Linked DNA regions of Homo sapiens. Changing the gene in region 1 together with any one later gene gives a genetic interaction. Each region holds a gene or a part of one and is shown on either strand. Other genes may lie near its edges.

Region 1 (2,558 bases):
CTTGTGACCTTTCATTAGCCTCAGCCCCCTGAACAAGGAAGGGATCAGTTTTATGGAGGGACTGTTACCATCTTTGCTTCGAAGTTAAACTGTAAACTAAATTTCTCCCGTGGTTAGCTTGGCCTATGCCCAGGAATGAGTGGAGACAGCTAGCCTGTGAGGGTAGACGCAAGATGGAGTCAGCCATGCTAGATTTCTTACTGTCCATAATCTTTGCAAAGGTGGTTTCAGCAGTAGTAAATACAAGCAACCAGATAAAGGTCTACTAGGCAGATCTTTACAGACACACAATAGCTTGTGAATTCCTGTTGATCTCATCTGGGCTCTCTAATATGTAATAGTTTTACAGCATTCTCAGCATGACAAATATTTTTCTACTTTACCGTTTGTTAGAATCCAGTGAACTTAAAAATCCTCTCCTTTCAAAAAGCAAATACTAGATTAAAATAGTTGCAAAGCTTTCTTTTAGGGATTGGAGAAGTGTAGCTACCTTTTGGCATGGTACAGACTTGGAATCTGTTTGCCTTGGCTGGTATTCCAGTCTGCCCTTCTTTAAATGTGTACCTCCTCAGGTATAAAATGGGAATGAGTAATAGTACCTAAGGATAAATTCCCAGTTGAATTAACCTGATAAGAAAATCTTCAGCTCTTTATAGAACATTGCCATCCCACTTTTTTGGGCTATCTTTTAATGTCACCTTGGTTTAAATGTTCATTCTTGTATAGGTCATCCATGTCAATAGTGTTAGAACCTTGGATATCCCCAGCAAACCATCTCATTACTCATTCTTTATTCTTCCATTGCCCACAGCCTGAAATCTTTTGATATTTCACTAAAATATCATTTGTATTTCCCTTTTTGCTACAAACAATAGAGATCTTAAATATACACTTCAGGTTTGACATATGCATACATCCGTGGAGCCTTCATCAGGATCAAGACCTACATGGTACATTTCTGTACCCCAGGAAGTTCCTTCCTATCCTTCTCTAAGCCCACCACCTCCATCACTTTCAGATTTCTAGAACCTAAATTCATTTTGCCTGTTCTTGAAGTTAATATAAATGAAAATTTGGGTCTGGCCTTCATTCACAATGTAATGTTGTAATGTTTCATCCACAATAGTTTCCCTTTCTATTGCCGAGGGGATATACCATTGTATGCAGATGCCACAGTTTGATCATCTGTTCTGTTGATATTGGGCTGTTGCCAGTTCTTGGCTATTGGGATAAAGCTGTCCTGAGTCTGCTTTCATTTTCTCTGTCTGAGATGCTCTGTGGTTCCTGTCTCCTGCTTCCTAGCCCTGCAACCTTGGGCAAGTGTCTTAATCTCTCTGCTTTGGTTTCCTTATCTGTAAAATGGTAGGTTGGAAAATAACTCAGGGTTGGGACTAACATTAAAAAAAAGAGAGAGAGATAGGGTCAGACATGCCTATAATCCCAGCACTTTGGGAGGCTGAGGTGGGAGGATCACCTTAGGTTGGGAGTTTGAGCCCAGCCTGAGCAACGTAACCAGTCCCTGTTTCTACATTTTAAAATCTCAAAGTTTTTCAAATGAAATAGAAGAGAACTTGAGAGTGAATGACATGGAACTGCACACAATGCGTCACACATGTAAATAGAGTTTTGTGTATGTATGTGTATACTAAACACAGTATAAAAATGTATTTGTTATAATTTAGGCAAATCGGTTTGCCAAGCACTGTATGTGCCATTGTAAGCAAGGAAGTTGAACTCTCCTGAGGTTATTTAGTAATAGGTATTTCTAGCTTCAGCATGTCTCAAACAGTCACTTACATAGTGCTTGCTGTGAGCCACGCGCTATTTTAAAAGCTTTCCATATAACATCATATACTCACAACCATCCTTTGAAGTGGGCTTGATTCCCATTTTATATATGGAGAAGTTGAGACAGGGACTATCCCACTTGCCCATGATCACAAAGCTAGAAAGGAAGGGCCAAGATTTGAACCTAGGCAGTGCAAGTGTAGAGTCTTTGCTGTAAACCACTATTCCTGGGGAGACAGGTAAAATAAATTGTATGTGCAAATGCAAATTGATAAGTAATTGATACAATACTCCACCCCTTTATTCCAGATATGAGAAATGAGTGTTGGACGTCGAAGAATAAAGTTGTTGGGTATCCTGATGATGGCAAATGTCTTCATTTATTTTATTATGGAAGTCTCCAAAAGCAGTAGCCAAGAAAAAAATGGAAAAGGGGAAGTAATAATACCCAAAGAGAAGTTCTGGAAGATATCTACCCCTCCCGAGGCATACTGGAACCGAGAGCAAGAGAAGCTGAACCGGCAGTACAACCCCATCCTGAGCATGCTGACCAACCAGACGGGGGAGGCGGGCAGGCTCTCCAATATAAGCCATCTGAACTACTGCGAACCTGACCTGAGGGTCACGTCGGTGGTTACGGGTTTTAACAACTTGCCGGACAGATTTAAAGACTTTCTGCTGTATTTGAGATGCCGCAATTATTCACTGCTTATAGATCAGCCGGATAAGTGTGCAAAGAAACCTTTCTTGTTGCTGGCGATTAAGTCCCT
Region 2 (3,500 bases), on another chromosome or scaffold:
TTGCCTTCATAAACATTTCTGGTTGTTAATTATATAAATGCACAGCTTAATAACGATCTTAGCCTGAACAGGATGGTGAAACCCTGTCATTACAAAAAATGCAAACAATTAGCAGAACATGGTGGCACACGCCTGTAGTCTCAGCTACACGGGAGGCTGAGGTAGGTTGATGGCTTTAGCCTGGGAGGTCTACGCTGCAGTGAGCTATGATCACACCACTGCACTGCAACCTGGGTGACACATAGAGACCCTGTCTGGAAAAAAAAAAAAGACCTTGAGTTAATAGGATACTAGATTATAACAACCAAAAATGAGTATTAAGAAAATTTTAAATAGTTCCTTTTCTTATATTATAAATAGATACTTAGGGTATAGCAATACAGAAACCCAACTTGTTTATTTCTTTTTTGTTGTTGTTTTTTGTTTTTTGAAACAGCGTCTTGCTCCCTCTGCCAGGCTGGACTGCAGTGGCTCATGACTCACTGCAGTCTTGACCTCCTGGGCTCAAGCAAGTCTTCTGTCTCAGCCACCTGAGTAGCTGGGACTACAGGCATGAGCCACAACACCTGGCTAATTTTTGTAGAGACAGGGTTTTTTCGTGTTGGTCAAGCTGGTCCCAAACTCCTGGGCTCAAGTGGTCTGTCTGCCTCAGCCTCCCAAAGTGCTGTGACTACAGGCATGAGCCACTGTGCCCAGCCTTCGTTTCTATAGTTTGTGGTATCTGCTCTTTAGCTAACTCCTTTGTTAATTGTATTGAACAGCTGATGATTTTTAATAAAGTATTTTGTGTTATAGGTAGCTACTACCATAGAATGTCTCCCTTTTTTTAGTTATATGCCAACTGATAGAGAATAATTTGTAAGAGTAAATAGTAGTGGATGAAGGTCAGTATATGAAGCCCATTATCTTCCTGTACTTTATATTACAATTTCAGGTTCTTTTTGACCCTTAAGGTATGTACCAGAGAAAACCTAGAAATATTGCCACCTGGAATAAGATTGAGTGTATATGAACTAGAAATATGTGAAGAGTTATGACAAGAGATTTTACTAGTGCTGTATTGATTCAGCTCTGGAAGCTGGCTTTGAGGTATCCTGAGAAAGATGCCACAGTTTTAGGATTCAGCTTTTTCTGAAAGCAATAATTGATGACCTTTTTAATCTTATAATTAAATCTCCTTCCAGAGATGCAAAGATACAAACAGTAATCCTCACATGGTTGCATGACTGATTAAGAATTTATCCAGCCAGGTTTGGTGGCTCACGCCTGTAATCCCAGCACTTTGGGAGGCCGAGGCAGGTGGATCACCTGAGGTCAGGAGTTTGAGACCAGCCTGACCAACATGGAGAAACCCCGTCTCTACTAAAAATACAGAATTAGCCGGGAGTGGTGGTGCATGCCTGTAATCCTAGCTACTCGGGAGGCTGAGGCAGGAGAATCACTTGGACCCGGGAGGCGGAAGTTGTGGTGAGCTGAGATTGCACCATTGCACTCCAGCCTGGGCAACAAGAGCAAAACTCCATCTCAAAAAAAAAAAAAAAAAAAAGAATTTATCCATATAATTTTTAAAATAATATCTTGCATTAAAATTAATTTGTTCTCAGTAGACATCTTTTGTCTTTGTTAAGTAGAATTTTATGTTTTTCTAGAAAACTTTAAATTTTGAAAGAATTATGCATAATTTAGAAATTCATGCATATGTTTTTCACTTTTCAAATTAAATAGAAAAATTGTGTATGCTACATCTAATATCTTTCTAGCTCTGAACTGAGTTATTCTGAATTTTCTTAATTATTCATAAGTGCTATTTAGTTATGGTTTCTTCTTGCAGACTAATCTGGTAGCTTCTGGTGCTAATGAATCTGAAATCTACATATGGGATCTAAATAATTTTGCAACCCCAATGACACCAGGAGCCAAAACACAGGTATTTTTATATTGATTTTGATCATTGTAATCAAAAAAGCCAAAAGTAGTTCTCCTAAACCTACTTATTTCACTTTTAAGGCTTCTCACACAAAACATATATGTTTAAAATCATTGTTTAGATATTACTGATTTTTCTTCAGTAATTAATAAATATGTTTCTTCAAAGTATCAGTGAGTCCATCAAGAGTAAATATTTATTTAGTACCTACCACCTGGTAGACACTGGTCATTGTACTAGGCATACAGTAGTAAACAAAATGAACAAAAATCCTTAATAATTGTCTTAGATATAGTATAATTATTTTTGTTCTTTGTGTGATAGTTGCTCTGTGTTTTGGCAACAACCAACCTTCTTAAAACACACTTAGACAAGACCATGGAAGACAAGGTTTAAAATAAATACCTCAAGCCCTTTGCTTGTGTATTTCTATTAAGTTTGGTAACAACAGTCTTCTCCTGTTCTTCCCTGAGTTTCTTTATGTTGTATAGGCTATCCAACTTGAGTAGCCATTGTAACTGGCTCTAACATTTTGGCAATCTGAGAGGTAGCATAATGACAGCATATGCACTACCATTTATAAAGGTATTTTGCTAATGGTCTAGGCTGTAATTTTGCCCTGCCTAGTTTTCTGTCATAGTCACCAACATCTACTTTGTGGTCCATAATCTACCTTGCAGCAGTTGCAAAGTAAAGAAACAGTACTTGGTTTATAGCAGAAATTCAATAAAATTCTTGTTGAATGAGATATTATGAAACAAGATAATACACTTGAAGTGGTATGTACCTGCATTTTAAGTCATATAATTTTATGTGTTGAGAATGTAGAGATGTAGGACTATAAAGCAAATTTGTGGCATAAATGGATCAGATTTTTAAGTAATACACTTTTCAAAATGAAGGATCCAATTTTACAGTTAAATTTGATTATAATAGAGAAACAAGCAGTTTTTATTAACTGTTTCTTCCTTGTAGCCGCCAGAAGATATCAGCTGCATTGCATGGAACAGACAAGTTCAGCATATTTTAGCATCAGCCAGTCCCAGTGGCCGGGCCACTGTATGGGATCTTAGAAAAAATGAGCCAATCATCAAAGTCAGTGACCATAGTAACAGAGTAAGTATGTGATTGACTTGTGATGAACATGTTGTATTTCTGCTGTAGGTATTCCTATATTGTTTGTCAGAGTTGACAACAAATCAAATTTCTGTGAAGTCAAATCCTGTTTTTTTATTAATCAGTCATGTTAGAAGGAATGTTTTGTTTTTTTTCCTCTAAGGGAAAATCATAAAATTCCCAATAAATATGTTGGATATTATTAATGATGAAGAGAGATTGGTTAATCAAGGAACTTATTCCATGATATACTGGTGGTTTTGCTTTGCTAGCTGTTTTAAAACATTGCAGCAACTTTTTTTTTTTTTTTCTTGAGACGGAGTCTCGCTTTGTCGCCCAGGCTGGAGTACAGTGGCGTGATCTCGGCTCACTGCAACCTCTGCCTCCTGGGTTCAAGCACTTCTCCTGCCCCAGCCTTCCGAGTAGCTGAGATTACAGGCATGCACCATCAAGCCCG
Region 3 (3,500 bases), on another chromosome or scaffold:
GTCTAGACTAGGTTGTAAGTTTCCTGCTTCATATAGCTAGTGAGCAATAGAACTAAGATTGGAATACTGGTGTCCTAATTCAGTTATCTTTGCCCTGGGAGCCTGGGCAGATGCGGATGCGAGGTGCGCTGGGAGGTGGCAGCGGTCTGGGGCAGTGGCCTGCGGTGGGTAGGCTGGGACCTCGCAGTCTCCCCACACACATGTGGGGCCCCACCACATGGCGCCTCCCTGCGGGCGTGCACCTGCAGCGGTGGGGGTGGCTGGGGCACCTGGGAACGGGGATGCCTTGCCCTCCGAGGTCTCCCCTGGGCGGCCGCCCATGCCATTTTCCGGGCTGCTCGCCTTCTAGAAGTTCCTGCAGGAAGCTGGTGATGTGGCCTCCCTGACCCGGGCCCGCCCCCCACCACTTTGCTGGAGGGGTAGTCAGATTCCAGCCGGGATACGTAGCAGCAGCTTGGTGGCAGGCGATAGGAAAATGGGCAAAAGCCCCAACTGGCTGGAAGGCAACCCCGGGGGCCGGACCTCCTTGTGGGAGGGCCCGGGACTGCACTAGGCGGGAGTGGAGGCCGCGGCTCCAGGCTGGTCTCGGCCTGGTAATTTGACACGGCCAGCCGGTCACTGTTTAAGGCACTGTGTACCATTTTACTAACTTAATCCTCACGGTGACCGCATTTCCCAGCTGGGCCAACTGGTGCGGGGTTGACTGGAAGCGACCGGGGTTGACTGGAAGCGACCGGCATAGCGCTTGGCAAGTATATAGCAGGTAGTAAAATGGCTGTAATTTTGAAAGTTAGCTTTGTGAAGTGTTGGGGCTGCGGCATCTGCTGGTGGTGTGTGGTATTACAGCCCCGTGCTGGCGGACCCCATTGGGTTGGGGAGCGTTGCGAGATTGTGGCCCCAGAGCCAAGTGGGCAGTTAGGGGTCTCTGGAGACTCTGGAAGGAGAGGTAGCACAAAAGACAGCGGAGGTGTTCGCTTCGGCAGCACATATACTAAAATTGGAACGGTACAGAGATTAGCATGGCCCCTGCGCGAAGATGGCACGCAAATTTGTGAAGCGTTCCATCAAAAAAATAAAAAAATAAAAAATAATAAAAAAAAATGGGGGACTGCGGAGGAGCTAAAATTTCGAGACTGCATGTTTGTTTTTTTTTGTGCACCAGCAGCTCATTAGAAGAATTCCTCAATTGCTGCTTCAACACCCGCCACGATGGCGTTCAACCTGGCAGATTAATTTAACAACTCTCTGATGGGTTGCCCTGAAATTTGAAAAACAGTGCCTTGGGCTGGGCGCGATGGCTCACACCTGTAATCCCAGCATTTTGGGAGACCGAGGCGGGCGAATCACCTGAGGTCGGGAGTTGGAGACCAGCCTGACCAACATGGAGAAACCCCATCTCTACTAAAAATACAAAATTAGCGGGGCATGGTGGCGCATGCCTGTAATCCCAGCTACTCGGGAGGCTGAGGCTTGAACCCGGGAGGCGGAGGTTGCACTGAGCCGAGATCACGCCATTGCACTGCAGCCTGGGCAATGAGCAAAACTCTGTCTCAAGAAAAAAACAAAACAAAACAAAAAACAGTGGCTTAAGCAAAGGCCACAAGAAAGAATTGAGATCAAAGAGGAGTGTGTGCCATGGCTATGGAGGGGTTTCAGTTGTGAATTATGAAATGTCATGTAAACCATTTCAAGCATTTCAAGGAGTTTGAATTTTATATAAAAAACAATGGGAAGACGCTGCAAGTTTTGAAGCAGCATCTCAGACATGTTGAAAAAGATGTTTGGATCCCTAAAATAATGAGAGAAAAGGCCAGAGAGAGGTGTTCTGAACAACTTCAAGATTTTACCAAATGTTGCAAGAACTCTGGAACCCTTACGGTAGGAAAATGCTGGAAAGAAAATTCTCTATTGAAAGGACGTCTAACTGCTCACTATAATGATCCAGCCTTTTATGAAGAATGCAAAATGGAATACCTGAAGGAAGGAAGAATTCAGAAAAACTGGAATTTCTACAAAGAGAAGGCTACAGAAACTTCCCATAAGCCTGTAGGCAAATATTCAAATGATATTCAGGAACTCTAATATTCATGGAAGTCATTTATAGTATAAATTTCCTTAAATAATGGACTCAAGAATGTGTGTTTGCTTTATCCTAATTATGGAAATATTAATTTTTATCTGAAATAAAGATCTTTTATTTCAAAAACGAAAATAAACCCCACACTTCATTAGGGCAGGATTAACATTTGAATTCTACATGTATACATTTCAATCTCCTTTGACCTTGGTTTCATCATCTCTAAAGTTAGGAGTATGTAGTAGTTAGCAGTTGGTTTCCTCACCCTGTAGTAGGGATTCCTCAATCCGGGAAGTGTATGTGTTAGCTTTGTGGAGCCTCTTCAGGTCTGTGGTAGGCTTTCCAGTTGGCATGGGAGTACTTTGAGATCTATGGCTTGCTCTTCCTTTTTAGGCTAGCAGAACCCTATACTTTCTATTGGACTGGAAGCCCATTTCTCTGATGGTTCCAGTGGAAAGCCTTTGTGAACAATAAATCCCAACTAAGTGTTAGGGAACACTGTATTTATTTACTTTTCCTTTGAAGTCTTTGATGCCATTTAGACTGGAAAGTTGTGAAAAATGGAGGTGGAGGTAGTGGGCAGGTGACTATCTCCTTTTCTTTAGTGTGTTCCAAGCTGTAACTTACTAGAGTGCTTTGGCCAAGAGAGCATCTGGTATGATTGGCATGGATTGGAATGACCTGTAGACTCTCACTCTGTCCCCAGAGCCATCATGAAGCTGAATGGCCACCAGTTGGAGAACCATGCCCTGAAGGTCTCCTACATCCCCGATGAGCAGATAGCACAGGGACCTGAGAATGGGCGCCGAGGGGGCTTTGGCTCTCGGGGTCAGCCCCGCCAGGGCTCACCTGTGGCAGCGGGGGCCCCAGCCAAGCAGCAGCAAGTGGACATCCCCCTTCGGCTCCTGGTGCCCACCCAGTATGTGGGTGCCATTATTGGCAAGGAGGGGGCCACCATCCGCAACATCACAAAACAGACCCAGTCCAAGTGAGTCTTGGCTCTTGGGGAATGGAGGTTGGGTGCTAGGGAACAGTGGTTGGTACCTAAAGAGGCCTCCTGGAAGCATGCTGGAGACATCAACATTTACCTTTTAGGAAATGTTGCCTGGAGCATTCAGGGGTCCCTGCTTCCAATACCAGCCTCCTGGGAAAGGGAGGGCAGATAGGGAGGGAGAATGGGTCTGGGGTGCTAGGCCACACACTCGTATTAGCAAGAGAGATTCTATAATTTCTCATGTGAAGTTTCATAAAAAAAGTCTCCAAGCAAACCTCATTTTGATGAGTCAGCAACTCAGTGCTCTGTGATTTCATGATCACTTAGTGTGGTAACAGGGCTGGCCAACCTGTCCAAAATTAGGACCTTCATAATTGTGTCCCATCTCCCATTCTGCCACTGCCACCTTCTTTCTTTAATATTTTTTTT
Region 4 (3,500 bases), on another chromosome or scaffold:
TCATCTGCATTCATTCTTGCCTCTAACTTTCTAATTTAGCTTCTTTACCCACACATCCCAAAATTGTCCTTAATAAGGCCACAAGGCTGGGCGTGGTGGCTCATGCCTGTAATCCCAGCACTTTGGGAGGTCAAGGCGGGTGGATCACAAGGTCCGGAGTTCAAGACCAGCCTGGCCAACATGGTGAAACCTTGTCTCTACTAAAAATACAAAAATTAGCCGGGTGTGGTGGCGTGCGCCTGTAATCCCAGCTACTCAGGAGGCCTCAGCCTCCTGAGTGATTCTCAGCAGGAGAATCACTTGAACCCGAGAGGTGGAGGTTGCAGTGAGCCGAGATCATGACATTGCACTGCAGCCTGGGCGACAGAGCAAGAATTCATCTCAAAATAAATAAATAAATAAATAAGGCCACAAATGGCTTCCTGGTTATTAAATAGAAAAATATTTTTCAGTTCTCATTTTCCGAGCTGCATTTGATACCTTTGGCTGTTATTTTGTTTTTACAACAATTGCTTTCTTTGGTTTCTAGGATATCACCAGAAGGGTAGTTATGGTTTTCTTTCTTTTTTTTGGTTGCTATTTCTCAACAGCAGTATTCTCAATATTTCTTCCATTTCTGATTGTTTTTTTCTCTCTCCTCCTTAAATATTGGTGTTCTTCAAGGTGACCTATTTTTCTTACTCTTATATACTCCCTGGGTGTCTTTAATTCCCATGGTTTTAAATCTTATGCATAGATCAGTGACTCCCATAATTATATCTTAAGGTGAAATCTGTCACTTTGGCTGCAGCTAAATATCTTTTTTTTTTTTTTTTTAAGACAGAGTCTTGCTCTGTTGCCCAGGCTGGAGTGAGGTGGCACGATCTTGGCTCACTGCAACCTTTGCCTCCTGGGTTCAAGCGATTCTCCTTTCTCAGCCTCCGGAGTAGCTGGGACCACCGGCATGTGCCACCACACCCGGCAAATTTTTTGTATTTTTAGAAGAGATGGGGTTTCACCGTCTTAGGATGGTGTTGCTCTCCTGACCTCATGATCTGCCCGCCTTGACCTCCCAAAGTGCTGGGATTACAGGCCTGAGCCACCGCGCCCAGCGCAGATAAATATCTTTATACTGGACATCTCCACTTAGATTTCTTGGTGGCACCTGAAAATTAGTGTGTTTAAAATAACTCTTCGATCTCTCTTCCCTTTGCCATTCCCCACCTTTGTTTTTTTGAGACAGAGTCTTGCTCTGTCAACCAGGCTGGAGTGCAGTGGCACGATATCCGCTCATTGCAACCTCCGCCTCCCAGGTTCAAGCAATTCTCCTGCCTCAGCCTCTGAGTAGCTGGGACTATAGGCGTGTGCCACCATGCCCGGCTAATTTTTGTATTTTAGTAGAGACGGGGTTTCACCGTGTTGGTCAGGCTGGTCTCGAACTTCTGACTTCAGGTGATCCACCCACCTCGGCCTCCCAAAGTGTTGGGATTACAGGCATGAGCCACTGCATCCGACTTTTTTTTTTTTTTTTTTTTTAAAGACAGCTCTCATTCTGTCGCCCTGGCCGGAATGCAATGATGCAATGATAGCTCACTGCAGCCTTGAACTCCTGGGCTCAAGTAATCCTTGATCCTTGATCAAGTGGGTGGAGTGGCTCATGCTTGTAATCTTAGTACTTTGGGAGGTCGAGTCAAGAAGATCCCTTGAGCCCAGGAGTTCGAGACCAGCCTGGACAACTTAGGGAGACCCCATCTCTACAAAAAAATTTAAAAATTAGCCAGGCATAATGGTGCACGCCTGTAGGCCCAGCTACTCAAGAGGGGAGGTGGGAGGATCGCTTGAGCTTGGGAGGTCGAGGCTGCGGTGAGCTGTGACACTTCAGCCTGGGTGGCAGAGCGAGACCTCATTTCTGAAAAACGCACACACACACACACACACACACACACACACAACCAAAACTTATATTTTGTAGAGATAGGGACTTGCTATTGCCCAGGCTGGTCTCAAACTCCTGGCCTCAAGTGATCCTCCCACCTTGACTTTCTAAAGTGCTGGGATTGCAGGCATGAGCCACCGTGCCTGGCCTACATTTCTATTCTTTTCTCTTTCTGTTCAAATGAATAAACACGGCCATCCACCAGGTTGCTCAGGTCAGAAACCTAGGAGTCATCCTAGATTTTTTCCTCTCTTCATCACCCATATTCAATTCCACATAAAATCCCATGAATGCTGTTTCCTCAAATCAGTTTTTAAAAATTTGAGTAATGTATAGATACTAAATATTTCTCTGCTGTCCCAATGTTAAATTATTTATTTATTTATTTTACTTCTGACACAGGTTCTCACTCTGTTGCCCAGGCTAGAGTGCAGGGGCATGATCACAGCCCACTGCAGGCTTGATCTCTTGGGTTCAAGTGATCCTCCCGCCTCAGCCTCCCAAGTAGCTGGGAATATAGGCACGTGCCACCACAACTGGCTAATTATTTATTTTTTTGTAGAGACGAGGTCTCACTATATTACCCAGGTTATTCTTGAACTCCTGAGGTCAAGCCGTGCTCCCACCTTGGCTTTTCAAAGTGCTCGGATTACAAGATCAAGCCAACATGCCTGGCAAAAATTATTTTTATTAAATGTGTATATGCAAACACAAAACTAGATGTAAACTTCATAGGGTTATAGCTATTGTACTATTGTAAAACCAAACATTAAAAATATCAACATATGGCTGGGCATGGTGGCTCACGCCTGTAATCCCAGCACTTTGGGAGGCTGAGGTGGCCAGATCACTTGAGGTCAGAAGTTCAAGAACAGCCTGGCCAACATGGTGAAATCCCGTCTCTACTAAAAATACAAAATTAGCCAGCGTGGTGGTGCACACCTGTAATCCTAGCTACTCGAGAGGCTGAATGAGGCAGGAGAATCGCCTGAACCCAGGAGGCGGAGGTTGCAGTGAGCCGAGATCGCACCACTGCACTTTAGCTTGGGCAACAGAGCGAGACTCTGTCTCAAAAAAAAATCAAAAGCAATATAATTCAATTTTAAAACATTAAACAATATGCTACATTTTGTTTGAAACCACAGTTGATTTGATTGTTTTAATTTTGAATATGTTGGAACATTACTTGGGTGACTATCATGCTCACTTTTTCCTTTTTGTTTTTGAGACACGTTCTCACTCTGTAGCCCAGGGTGGAATGCCTAATTATAGCTCACTGAAGTCAAACTCCTGGGCTCAAGCAGTCCTCTTGCCTCAGCCTCCTGAGAAGCTAGATCTACAGGCATGTGCCACAACTCCTGGCTAATTTTTTAATTTTTAATTTTTTTGTGTGGAAATGGAGTCTCGCTGTGTTGCCCAGGCTGGTCTCCTACTCCTGAGCTCAAGTAGTTCTGCTTTGGCCTCCCAGTGTGATGGGATTACAGGCATGAGCCACCATGCCCAACCTCTACACGATTTTAATAGGGGAAGAATGGGGTGGGGGAGAGGACATTTACTGGAAAACAGACGACTTATAGGAAGGATA
Region 5 (3,500 bases), on another chromosome or scaffold:
GTAGAGACGGGGTTTCACCGTGTTAGCCAGGATGGTCTCGATCTCCTGACCATGATCATGATCCACCCACTTTGGCCTCCCAGTTTTTTTTTTTTTTTTTTTTTAAATATAAATCTACTAAAAGAACAAGTTGGACCATAAGCTGTGAAAAAATCACACTGCGAAGAGAGAAGAGAGGTTCACACTATTCAGCCCTAAAAGACCACAGCTGGAAACCAGGTCAGGAGAAGAAAATCAAGGGAAATGATGGATGAGGAAAGGAAGAGATGGCAGAACCTGCTGTCTTCGGATAATTGAGGAGCTGAAATGCAGAAGGGAGATTTTTTCCCTCTGGTACCCCCAGAGCACAGAACACTGTAAATTGTGGCTTCAAAATAAATAACTTTCTAACACCTTCAATATTACCAATTGGAATGAGTTACTTTATTAGGTGATACATTCCCCTTTGCTGGAAAGTCCTTGGGTTGATGAGGAACAGCTATCTTGCAAAGATATGGAGGGGAGTCTTGTCTTTAAGCGGAAAGCTGGATGAGGTGATTTTTAAGACCCCCTATGTTTCAGTTTGCGTTCCCTTAAAAATAAAGCATGAGACAAGGGTTGGACGCAGGATGCAGGAAGTCTATCAGGGAGGTGACATCAGGAAGTGGGCAAGTGGGAAAAGCAAAACAGGGACAGAAGAGCCAATGAATCATATTGTTCAACTGTGTGCAACGAGGCTCACTCCTGCTAGAAACCCTCTGAAGAACCATGTAGCATGCATTCCAGAATGATTCTTGAAGGAAAGAAGACTGGGACAGTTATCCACCAACTCCAAAACCTCCTTGGTTGACAGCCATTAACTCCCCAGCACTTCCCAGACCACAGCCAGCTGGCTAGGGAAAAGCTCTTCCACCTTCTTTTCCTGACATGGTTTCCAGCTGTGGTCTCAAGTATGCATCAGAACAGCCAAGTGCTGGAGGTGGGAGCTGCAAGCATATGCGGGGCTGCTGCTGAAACACAGGAGGCCACGGGGGTGGGCATAACACCAGGGGAAAAACGTGCGGCCATGCCTTCGAAGTCCCAGTTTTTCTGGTTTAAAAAATGCAAGACCCTACAGCACTCCTGGCTCACCACTATAGCTCAGGTTCTAGCAGAGGTTACTGGGGGCATCCCCAAAATTGAGACCTCAGTGTTGTGACACAGGGAAACGATTTCAGGTCATATATTATGTTAAAGAGTTGACAAGAAATAAAAATCATAACACATAAACCAACCTTATGATCTCATAAACAAGCAACCCCCTGAAGAACACAGCAAACCAAAGCATCCTGTCTACCTGGCAATACGAATTTGCTTACTTCCCATTTTTGATACCTTCTCGGCCATACATTTTGTACATTCTAACATCTATAAAATGGATGTCATAACTTAATTGGTAGTGTTATTTTTCTTAGTGGTATATAAAATAATGATGCTTCTTACTAATTATGGTGTTTTAGATTTGATGGAACACACCATTCCTGATATTTTCAACTTAAAATATTCAATTCATTTGCTGGCCAATTGAAGACCAAAACAATTCCCTATCACCAAAGTTTAGAAAAGCTTCAACTTTAACATTTTCTCCAGAGGAAAAAAACAGAAATGTAAAGAAATTACAATGACTACTGATTAAATGTAATAAAACTGCCCCCTCAAAGAGGCCTAGAGAATTGCTGTTATTTAAAATGACTGATGATTAATGATAAGACACATATTAAATGAAGAGGATAATAAGCAAGATTCACCGATGGCTTCCTAAGATATTAGTTAAATTTTACCAAAGGCAATATTCATTTTAGATTTCCTGAGAGAAGTCATTCCTCATGGACAGTTTTTAAAGATAGCTAACTTTCTAACAAAGAGTGCTAGAGAATGAGAGTGTAATTAAAGAATTTGCTTGTTCTTATCCCCTGAATTCCCTCCCACTCCTTGAGGAATAATAACTCTTACAATTAGACAGACATTGTTAGATGCATATCCTGCAGGTTGCCTCCTCAGGCATTCGGCACACAAAGCATTCACTAGATTGGTTTAGGAAGGAGGTATACTATCCTCAGCAGGAAGAGACCCAAGAGGTGACAGACAAAACAACACACTGGGCAGATGGAAAGCTTATAGATATTCCAAGAAACCTGAGACTGGTAAAGGAATATCCTTATACAAAGTAATTCTTCTATAAGTGCTTTCTAAAAGTTAGATCTAAGTAGCTATTTACTCTAAGTAAAAGCATATACTAGCATTTTAAAGCCCAAAGACAGAAAAAAACATGAAGTGGTTTATTGAAATAGAGGTGAATACCCCAAGCTGCCAACAACCCTTAGGTGGAATTAAGAGATCATCATTTTTGTATTAATGGGAACTTAATTTTAGACTATGCCTTTCTAGTTATCTCCTTCAATATCTAAGTCTATCAGTAGATATATCTATATCAATGTTATACAAAGCAAAGCTGAAGCCAGGGATATAAAATGACTTCAATGAAAATACACAGTCCTGGGTGGAAAAAATCCTGGTCGAAGCATTAAAAATTATAGAAAAGTTGATAAGCCTGATTTATGGGTATCACTGAACATTTTTTACTATGAAATTTATCTATAAGAAACATGCAAATTAAAACATCACCTCTACGGCTTCCCAGGCCCATTTCCTGTACTTTGGATCATGAGTCAGTCTCCACATATACATGTAAGTCTCCATAACTTCTGGCCGTAAGATGTAGTATTTTTCATTTTGTCTTGTAGCGATGGCTTCAACACCACCATCAAATCTGAAAGCTTCTGGTCCCAGTTTCATAACTAAAGGACATGGAATGAATGAATAAGGGTTATTTTCCTGGACAGTGCTTACAGTCAATAACTTAAATGAAACTAGAAAGTACAGTCATCCCTCAGTATCTATGAGGGACTGGTTCCAGGACCCTCCGAGGATAACAAAATCCATGGATCCTTGAGTCCCTTATATAAAATGGCAAAGTATTCGCATACAACCTGGGTACATCCTCCCATATACTTTAAATCACCTTGTTTACTTATACTACTTAATACAGTGTAAATGTTATGTAACTAGGTGTTATACTGTATTGTTTAGGGAATAAAGATAAGAACAAAAACTCTATAAATGTTCACTACAGACAGAACCATCCATTTTTTGGGAACATTTCTGATCTGCAGTTGTGGAACCCAGGGATACGAAGGTCTGACTGTACTTTAACAACACTGAAGAGAAATGTCAAAGTAGTCATTTTAAAAACGAGTTATAAACATCATGTAATATATAATATTCATATACTTAAACAATTTAGTCATTGAAAAGAGTCCATTTTAGAAAATATTAACAATTTATTTTTTTCATTTAACCCCCATTTACTGAGCACCCACCAGGCAGATACAAGGCACCATGAAATACCATTTGAGTTAGCCAGAAACTTAGTGGTTGACAATCCTAAGTAATTTCGTAACAGAAGGCCAGTTATTTACACT
Region 6 (3,500 bases), about 90 Mb from region 1:
AGGCTTAAGTGGAATGATTTTTTTTCCCCAGGCCATGCAACTGGTATATGCCAGAGCCAGGCAAGTTAAAACCCTGAAGGAATCTCTTAAAGAAGAGATTGACATCATTTTTCCCTCCCTCCTCCTCCCCCCATTAACTTTTTCAGTTGCTAATCTCTAAGTTGTCTTTAGAACTTCGAAAAGTTGCCATTAGTAACTTTTTTTTATAGAAGAGCTTGTGATCAGTGGTTTACTTGTTCTCAATAAACAAATATTTTAACACCTATTTAGTCCAGGAAGTGTTCTACATGGTGGGATAAGGGAACAAAACAGACAAATTCCACTGCCTTTATGGAGCTTTCATGTAGTGTTGGGAGACAGGAAATTAACTCACTTTGTCTCTACAAGTAAAATAATAGTGGTTAACACTTGTGCAAGGTTCACACAGGTTGTTTGATTTAATATTCACTTAGTTGATTTACTCTTTACAACAACCCTACAAGGTAGATATTATTCCCCTTATTTTACAGGGGTACGGAAACAGGTAACTTGCTTTAAGCACTATAGGTAAAAGTGATAGACCTGGATTTTAACCACGATTACGTAGTGCCGGAGTTATTTCTCCTACGCACACACACCTGGATTTTAACAAGATTATCTAGTGCCAGAGTTAGTTCTACACACACATGCACGCACGCACATTTGCACACAACTTCGTGTAAGAAGGACTTTGTATAAGAAGGACTCAGATAAAAAGAACTGACTGATGTGAACTATAAAAGAAGTTGTGGAATTTCCTCATTAATAGCCTTGTATTGCTCTCTTGGTTGGTTGCTAGAAAAGGAATTATAAGTATGAATGGGTGCAGGAGAAGCTGCCTGTGCTTCAGGAACCTGATGCTGAGGAAGCCACCTCTGTTTCTGGCTTATTATTGTTGTTATTATTATTATTATTATTATTATTAGGGAGTTTAAATGTGTAGAGAAGAGTACATATGGAAGCTGAGTAGCCAAGGGGTAGACTGTGTCTTAGCTTCTAATACAGATGCTCCTCAATTTGTGATAGTTGATAATTTGTGATAGATAGATAATTGAAAATACAGTAAGTAAAAAATGAGTTTAATATGCCAGACTTACTGAAAACCATGGCTTTAGCCTAGCTTGCTTTATACGTGCTCAGAACATTTATGTTAGTTTACAGGTTGGCAAAATCTAACCCAAAGCCTATTTTATAATAAAGGTTGAATATCTCGTGTAATTTATTGAATACTGTACTGAAAGTGAAAAACAGAATCTTTGCATGGGTACTCGAAGTATGGTTTCTACTGAATGTGTGTTGCTTTTACAACATCACAAGTCAGAGACCATTTGTAAACCCTTTTTGCATGCTCTGTGGAAGTGGAGCTAGGTCCTTTAAACGTTTTTCTTTTGCCACTGGGCAAAATGTTAAGTTTTGTCAGTAGGCTGCACTGGAGAGGCATTGTAGGAGGAAAGGGTGTTTGTACTTAGTTATAGTGTGCTTTCTTGACGGGCTCTGCTTGTAGCATGAACACCGTCTCCAAGGCCTGGCTCTTGTACTGCATAGTGGTCAGCAGCAGCCAACAGCTTCCCCTAGTACCCGTCTTAGTTGGTTTCATAATGGAAGGTCTCCAGTGAAATACCTCTCAATAAACAGTTTTCCTCAGCACCGAAGAGGGAGGATTTTTGGGCAGGTTCCACTGGCACCTCACCACAGCTACTTCTCTGCCATTCAGTGAGCCACTATCTGTGCCCTCCAACGAGATCTGCATCTTAAGTCTGGAGGGAGGGGGAGGACCTTTATCTCAACCCTAGGGATAGTGAGTGCTTCTTAAATTTGACATTCCCATAATCTTTTAGCCAATCTCTCATTACTCCAGTCCCCTGTAATATTTTTTTGATGTTGAACTTTCCAAGTTCAAATTATTGTGTGATTTCTGCCTCCTGATTGGATCTCTAATTTTGCCATGTGTAATCATTGCTTTTTTTTTTCAGCAACCTCATAGTGCAAAAGAAAATTTGGTTATTCCCCTGAAACTTAATTTACCATTACTGTAATAGCAAGTTTATTTTCAAACTTTCTTTTTATTGTTAAGACTTTTAAGTTTTAAAAATTGAACTTTTAATACAAAACGACTTAAGCAGATATCTCTCTCCTAACCTTTATATTTTCCAGATCTGATTTATTTATTCATGAAAAATATTAAGCTCATGCTTTATTCCAGGAGCTGTCCTATGGACTAAGAGAACTATAGTGAATATGACAAATGGAATTTTTTGCTCTGAGAGACATAGAATTAATAGGGCTTAGTGATAGTTCAGATATGAGGTAAAAATGATGAATCAAGAGGACTCTCCATTTATTTGCCCTGGTGTTTTTGTGTTTTCTGATGTTGTATGATTCACAGAGATAGTAATTCTCTACAATAACAATTATTATTATGCTTAATTTATTGACTGATGAGTTGGGGGAATATATATTAACTTTTAAAAACTGGCAATGAATGGAACTGGTAGACTGCCTGTGTCAAAAGGAAATGAAGGAAAAGGGAAACAAGAAGCAATTTTCATGACAAAACAGTAAAGTATTGATTGGTATGTTAAAGCCTAATTGGTAACTCACAGTTCCATCAAAGCATTAGAACAGTGCAGTTGTTGTGGCTTATTTGAGTAAATACAGGAATGCTGTGACATAGTCTAAAAGAAAAATCATACTAAGCAGTAAACTTCTGATGATTCTTGTGCATCAAAGAGTTGGAATGGCTGAAAGTTTTATTGCATTTGTCCACAATAACATTCTTGTAGTAGGCATATTGGGATTCTATGAAGTCTTTATTTCGAAGTGCATTATAGCACTTTTTGGCTACAAATTTACATTTTGTATAGATGCTTTTCCATCTTGCTAATGAAAGGAACAGGCTGTGGTGGTGAGAGTAAGGATGTTCAGAGGAAATTGATCTACTATTAAAAACTTTGTGACTAATCTGACCCTATTATTGAGATGACACGTTTGTCTTTGAGCCCATTGCACAGTTTGGTCTTAATTTTATAGTTCTCATTGTGACCCACATGCTATGTCTTAGATTTAGGAAGCTATTAAAAATGGTCATTGGTGGCCGGGACGCAGTGGCTCATGCCTGTAATCCCAGCACTTTGGGAGGCCAAGGCAGATGGATCACCTGAGGTCAGGAGTTCAAGACCAGCTTGGCCAACATGGCAAAACCCCTATCTCTACTAAAAATACAAAAATTAGGCCAGGCACAGTAAACTTCTGATGATTCACGTGCAGGTGGTTCACACCTGTAATCCCAGCACTTTGGCAGGCCGAGGCAGGTGGATCATGAGGTCAGGAGTTCAAGACCAGCCTGGCCAATATGGTGAAATCCTGTCTCTACTAAAAATACAAAAATTAGCTGGGCGTGGTGGTGCGCACCTGTAGTTCCAGCTACTCGGGAGGCTGAGGCAGGAGAATCCCTTGAACCTGGGAGGCAGAGGTTGCAGTGA
Region 7 (3,500 bases), on another chromosome or scaffold:
AATTATGAGCACCATTTTATAAGAGCCTAAGAACTTTAGGCTTGATGTTTATTGAATTCACAGTTGTGGTACTTCTAATTACCTCACTGTCAACAGCAACAAGACATCCTTCGAGACAATACCACTAATTTGGAGTTATTAATAAAGAACAGTTCACTTGGCTTTTACACACATAAAGCCAGACGTAGAATGCTACTGCAACTTTTAGGAAATCCAAGTTGACAAGGTATTCGAAGGAAGGTATGATTCTCACAAAGGAATCCAAACTTCAACATAGGAATATTTTAGTACCTTCAACTAAAATGTTACATGCTGTAAAATATGGTGCCCCTTTACATAGTTTAATGGAAAACAACCTAAGAGATGTGAAATTACTACAGGAATCAAATGAGCTAAATATGGAACATAAGCAAAAATAATGTTAAAATCTGAAACCTAACTAAAAACACTTGTATAATGGACCAATGGATTACAATACATCAATATAAAGGTGGTATTTATCTTTAAACTGGTCTTGTATTATACCACGCCACCCAAAGAGAATGGCTAGAAATAAGTTACCTAAAACAGTGTGAGCACAATAAAACACTTCCAAATAGCAAAAAACGTTATGTTTCAACTTCAAACAAAAGATGGAAAAGCACTTTAATGGCTACATAGTTTAATTTTTTTCTTTAATAACTGCGAAATGGCAAAACAAACATTAACTTAGTGATTTTAGATTAAAAGGAAAGGAGCAAGATCATACTGCTCTCATAAGACTCCAGGGATTGGTATACAGTGCAAGTAATTTAAAAAATAAATAAATAAATATAGTCTTTACTTGTTTTATTCCTTCATCTGGAGATTAAAATCTTCTATGTCAAATGTAAGTGAATGTCTGCCTGACAGGCTACATGAAACACACTTTCTTATAAGGAAACAGTTCCATGGAGACTGTTCACAGCTATGTAAACCTGAAAGTCATTGCCCTGCAGTTTCCAACTTACAGCACTTAGAACTTCATCTCTGTGCCCTTCTACGCCTCCAAATATTGCCACCAGAGTGTCCGTCTGGATATTCCATAATCGTAAAGCATGATCTAGTATAAACATACAAAAATTAGGCGAATGTTTTTTATTTACTGTGAACTTTCAACATCTTGTGAAAGAAAAACTACTAAAGTCTAGATGTAAGTTATGCACAGTAAAGCCTAAAAATGGAATCCATATTACATAGCAACTTAAAATGTTTACATCAGATGTAGAATTAGCTAGGTAAGTGCTATAGTTTGAATAGGCCCCCCCAAAAGCATGTGCTAGAAACTCAATCCCCAATGCAATAGTGGTGTGAGCTGGGGCCTAATGGGAGGTATTTAGGTCATGGGGGCTCCATCCTCACAAATGGATTAATACTGATTATAAAAGGGCCTGAGGCTATAAATTCAATCTCTTGCTCCCTCACACCCTCTCCTGCCCTTTTGCTGAGACGATTCAGCATGAAGGCTCTCACCAGATGCCGGCACCATGTTCTTGGACTTCCCAGTCTCCAGAAACAGGAGCCAAATAAATTTTTGTTCATTATAAATCACCCAGTCAGGTACGGTGGCTCATGCTTGTAACCCCAGCACTTCAGAAGGCCAAGATGGGAGGACTGCTTAAGCCCAGGAGTTTGAGACTAGCCCTAGCAATATAGCAAGACCCTGTCTCAACAAAAAATTTAAAAATTAGTGAAGCCTGAGCAATAGAAAAGAAATTAATTAATCCATCAGTCAGTCACCTAGTCTGTGGTATTGTGTTATAGCAGCACAAAATGGACTCAGACAGAATGTTGGTACTCAGAAACGGGACTATTGCTATAAATACCTGAAAATGTGGAAATGACTTTGGAACTGGGTAACGAGGAGAGGCTGGAAGAATCTGGAGGAGCAGGCTAGAAAAAGCCTATATTGGTGTGAGTGGAGCATTGAGGGTAATTCCAGTGAGGGCTGAAAAGAAGACAAGAGCTTCAGGCAGAGCCTTTATCTTCTTAAGGATTACTTAAGTGGTTGTGATCAGAATGTTGGTAGAACAATGTTGGTCTCAGACAGAATGAGGTTGGTCTCATTCAGTGAGGTCTCAGACAGAAATGAGAAGTTATTGGAAAATGGAGTAAGAGCTATCCCTGTTGGCAGGGTGTGATGGTTCATGCCTGTAATCCCAGCACTTTGAGATTGAGGCAGGAGGATCACTTGAGGCCAGGAATTCAAGACCAGCCGGGGTAACATAGTGAGACCCAATCCCTACAGAAAATAAATTAGCCAGGTGTGGTGGCGTGTACCTGCAGTTCTAGCTACTTAGGGGACTGAGGCAAGAGGATCAATTGAGCCTAGGAGTTTTGGGCTGCAGTGAGCTATGATCATGCCACTGCACTGCCTGGGTGACAGAGACCAACCCTGTCTTTAAAAGAAAAAAAAAAAAAGCCAGGCCAGGTGTGGTAGCTCATGCCTGTAATTCCAGCAGCATGGGAGGCTGAGGTGGGTGGACACTTGAGCTCAGGAATTCGAGACTAGCCTGGGCAACATGGTGAAACTCCATCTCTACAAAAAATACAAAAACTAGCGGGGTGTGGTGGCATGTGCCTGTAGTCCCAGCTACTCGGGAGGCTGAAGTGGAAGGATCACTGGCATGGTGCCGGCATCCGGTGAGGGCCTTCATGCTGAATCGTCTCACAGCAAAAGGGAAGGAGAGGGTGTGAGGGAGCAGAGGTTGTGCCACTGCACTCCAGCCTGGGTGACAAGAATGAGACCTTGCCTCAAAAAAATAAATTAAATAAATAAATAAAAGCCATCCTTGCAATACAGTTGTGAAGAACTTAGCAGGACTGTGTCCATGCCCTAGGACTTTGTGGAAGGCAGAAGTTAAGAGCAATGAATCCAATACCTGGCAGAAGAAATATCTGAGCATCAAAGCATTCACAGTGATGCATGGCTTCTTCTGGCTGCTTATCATAAAATGAGAAATGATCTAAAGGTGAAATTTGTAATTAAAAAGGAAAGCAAAACAGAAACATTTATAAACTCTCAGCCTGGCCATGTAAAGAAAAAAAAAGCAGGCTGGGTGTGGTGGCTCACACCTGTAATCCCAACACTTTCGAAGGCTGAGGTGGAAGGATCATTTGAGCCCAGAAGTTCAAGACCAGCCTGGGCAACATAGCAAGTCCTTGTCTCTTCAAAAAATATATAAAATAAAAAAGCATGTTTGAGAGAGAATATTAAGGATGTAGCTAAGTGACTAATTGCTAAGGAGATTAATAGGGAAGAGAAGGCAGGTTCTATTCACCAAGACAATGGGATAATGACCACAAAGGCATTTCAGAGATCTTCAAGACATAGCTAAGACCTTGAGGGCAAGGTTTCCAGAGTAGCACCCATGGGACCTCTACATTCACTGTCCAGGGCCACTTCAGCACTTTGCTCCCCCTATTCCAAGGCAGTGCTCTTTGGTCACCCCATAGCTTGAAGGGGCTCAAGTATGGCTCAG

The links.
Region 2: changes in B3GNT2 (region 1) and SEC31A together harm fitness less than expected from each alone (positive genetic interaction), as found in Homo sapiens cells (one large-scale study listed by BioGRID).
Region 3: changes in B3GNT2 (region 1) and IGF2BP1 together harm fitness less than expected from each alone (positive genetic interaction), as found in Homo sapiens cells (one large-scale study listed by BioGRID).
Region 4: changes in B3GNT2 (region 1) and SEC24A together harm fitness more than expected from each alone (negative genetic interaction), as found in Homo sapiens cells (one large-scale study listed by BioGRID).
Region 5: changes in B3GNT2 (region 1) and MAN1A1 together harm fitness less than expected from each alone (positive genetic interaction), as found in Homo sapiens cells (one large-scale study listed by BioGRID).
Region 6: changes in B3GNT2 (region 1) and ARL5A together harm fitness more than expected from each alone (negative genetic interaction), as found in Homo sapiens cells (one large-scale study listed by BioGRID).
Region 7: changes in B3GNT2 (region 1) and EED together harm fitness less than expected from each alone (positive genetic interaction), as found in Homo sapiens cells (one large-scale study listed by BioGRID).

What each region holds. Positions count from the first base shown.
Region 1 is NC_000002.12:62,220,115-62,222,672, forward strand, and holds part of B3GNT2 (N-acetyllactosaminide beta-1,3-N-acetylglucosaminyltransferase 2), read left to right. Parts: intron 1-2,097; 5' UTR 2,098-2,106; coding exon 2,107-2,558. UniProt on the Homo sapiens protein: Beta-1,3-N-acetylglucosaminyltransferase involved in the synthesis of poly-N-acetyllactosamine. Catalyzes the initiation and elongation of poly-N-acetyllactosamine chains. Shows a marked preference for Gal(beta1-4)Glc(NAc)-based acceptors.
Region 2 is NC_000004.12:82,874,154-82,877,653, reverse strand, and holds part of SEC31A (protein transport protein Sec31A), read left to right. Parts: intron 1-1,831; coding exon 1,832-1,927; intron 1,928-2,902; coding exon 2,903-3,043; intron 3,044-3,500. UniProt on the Homo sapiens protein: Component of the coat protein complex II (COPII) which promotes the formation of transport vesicles from the endoplasmic reticulum (ER).
Region 3 is NC_000017.11:49,035,385-49,038,884, forward strand, and holds part of IGF2BP1 (insulin-like growth factor 2 mRNA-binding protein 1), read left to right. Parts: intron 1-2,783; coding exon 2,784-3,065; intron 3,066-3,500. UniProt on the Homo sapiens protein: RNA-binding factor that recruits target transcripts to cytoplasmic protein-RNA complexes (mRNPs). This transcript 'caging' into mRNPs allows mRNA transport and transient storage.
Region 4 is NC_000005.10:134,655,285-134,658,784, forward strand, and holds part of SEC24A (protein transport protein Sec24A), read left to right. Parts: intron 1-3,500. UniProt on the Homo sapiens protein: Component of the coat protein complex II (COPII) which promotes the formation of transport vesicles from the endoplasmic reticulum (ER).
Region 5 is NC_000006.12:119,185,762-119,189,261, forward strand, and holds part of MAN1A1 (mannosyl-oligosaccharide 1,2-alpha-mannosidase IA), read right to left. Parts: intron 2,817-3,500; coding exon 2,644-2,816; intron 1-2,643. UniProt on the Homo sapiens protein: Involved in the maturation of Asn-linked oligosaccharides. Progressively trim alpha-1,2-linked mannose residues from Man(9)GlcNAc(2) to produce Man(5)GlcNAc(2).
Region 6 is NC_000002.12:151,821,922-151,825,421, reverse strand, and holds part of ARL5A (ADP-ribosylation factor-like protein 5A), read left to right. Parts: intron 1-3,500. UniProt on the Homo sapiens protein: Lacks ADP-ribosylation enhancing activity.
Region 7 is NC_000011.10:86,261,753-86,265,252, reverse strand, and holds part of EED (polycomb protein EED), read right to left. Parts: intron 1,082-3,500; coding exon 990-1,081; intron 1-989. UniProt on the Homo sapiens protein: Polycomb group (PcG) protein. Component of the PRC2/EED-EZH2 complex, which methylates 'Lys-9' and 'Lys-27' of histone H3, leading to transcriptional repression of the affected target gene.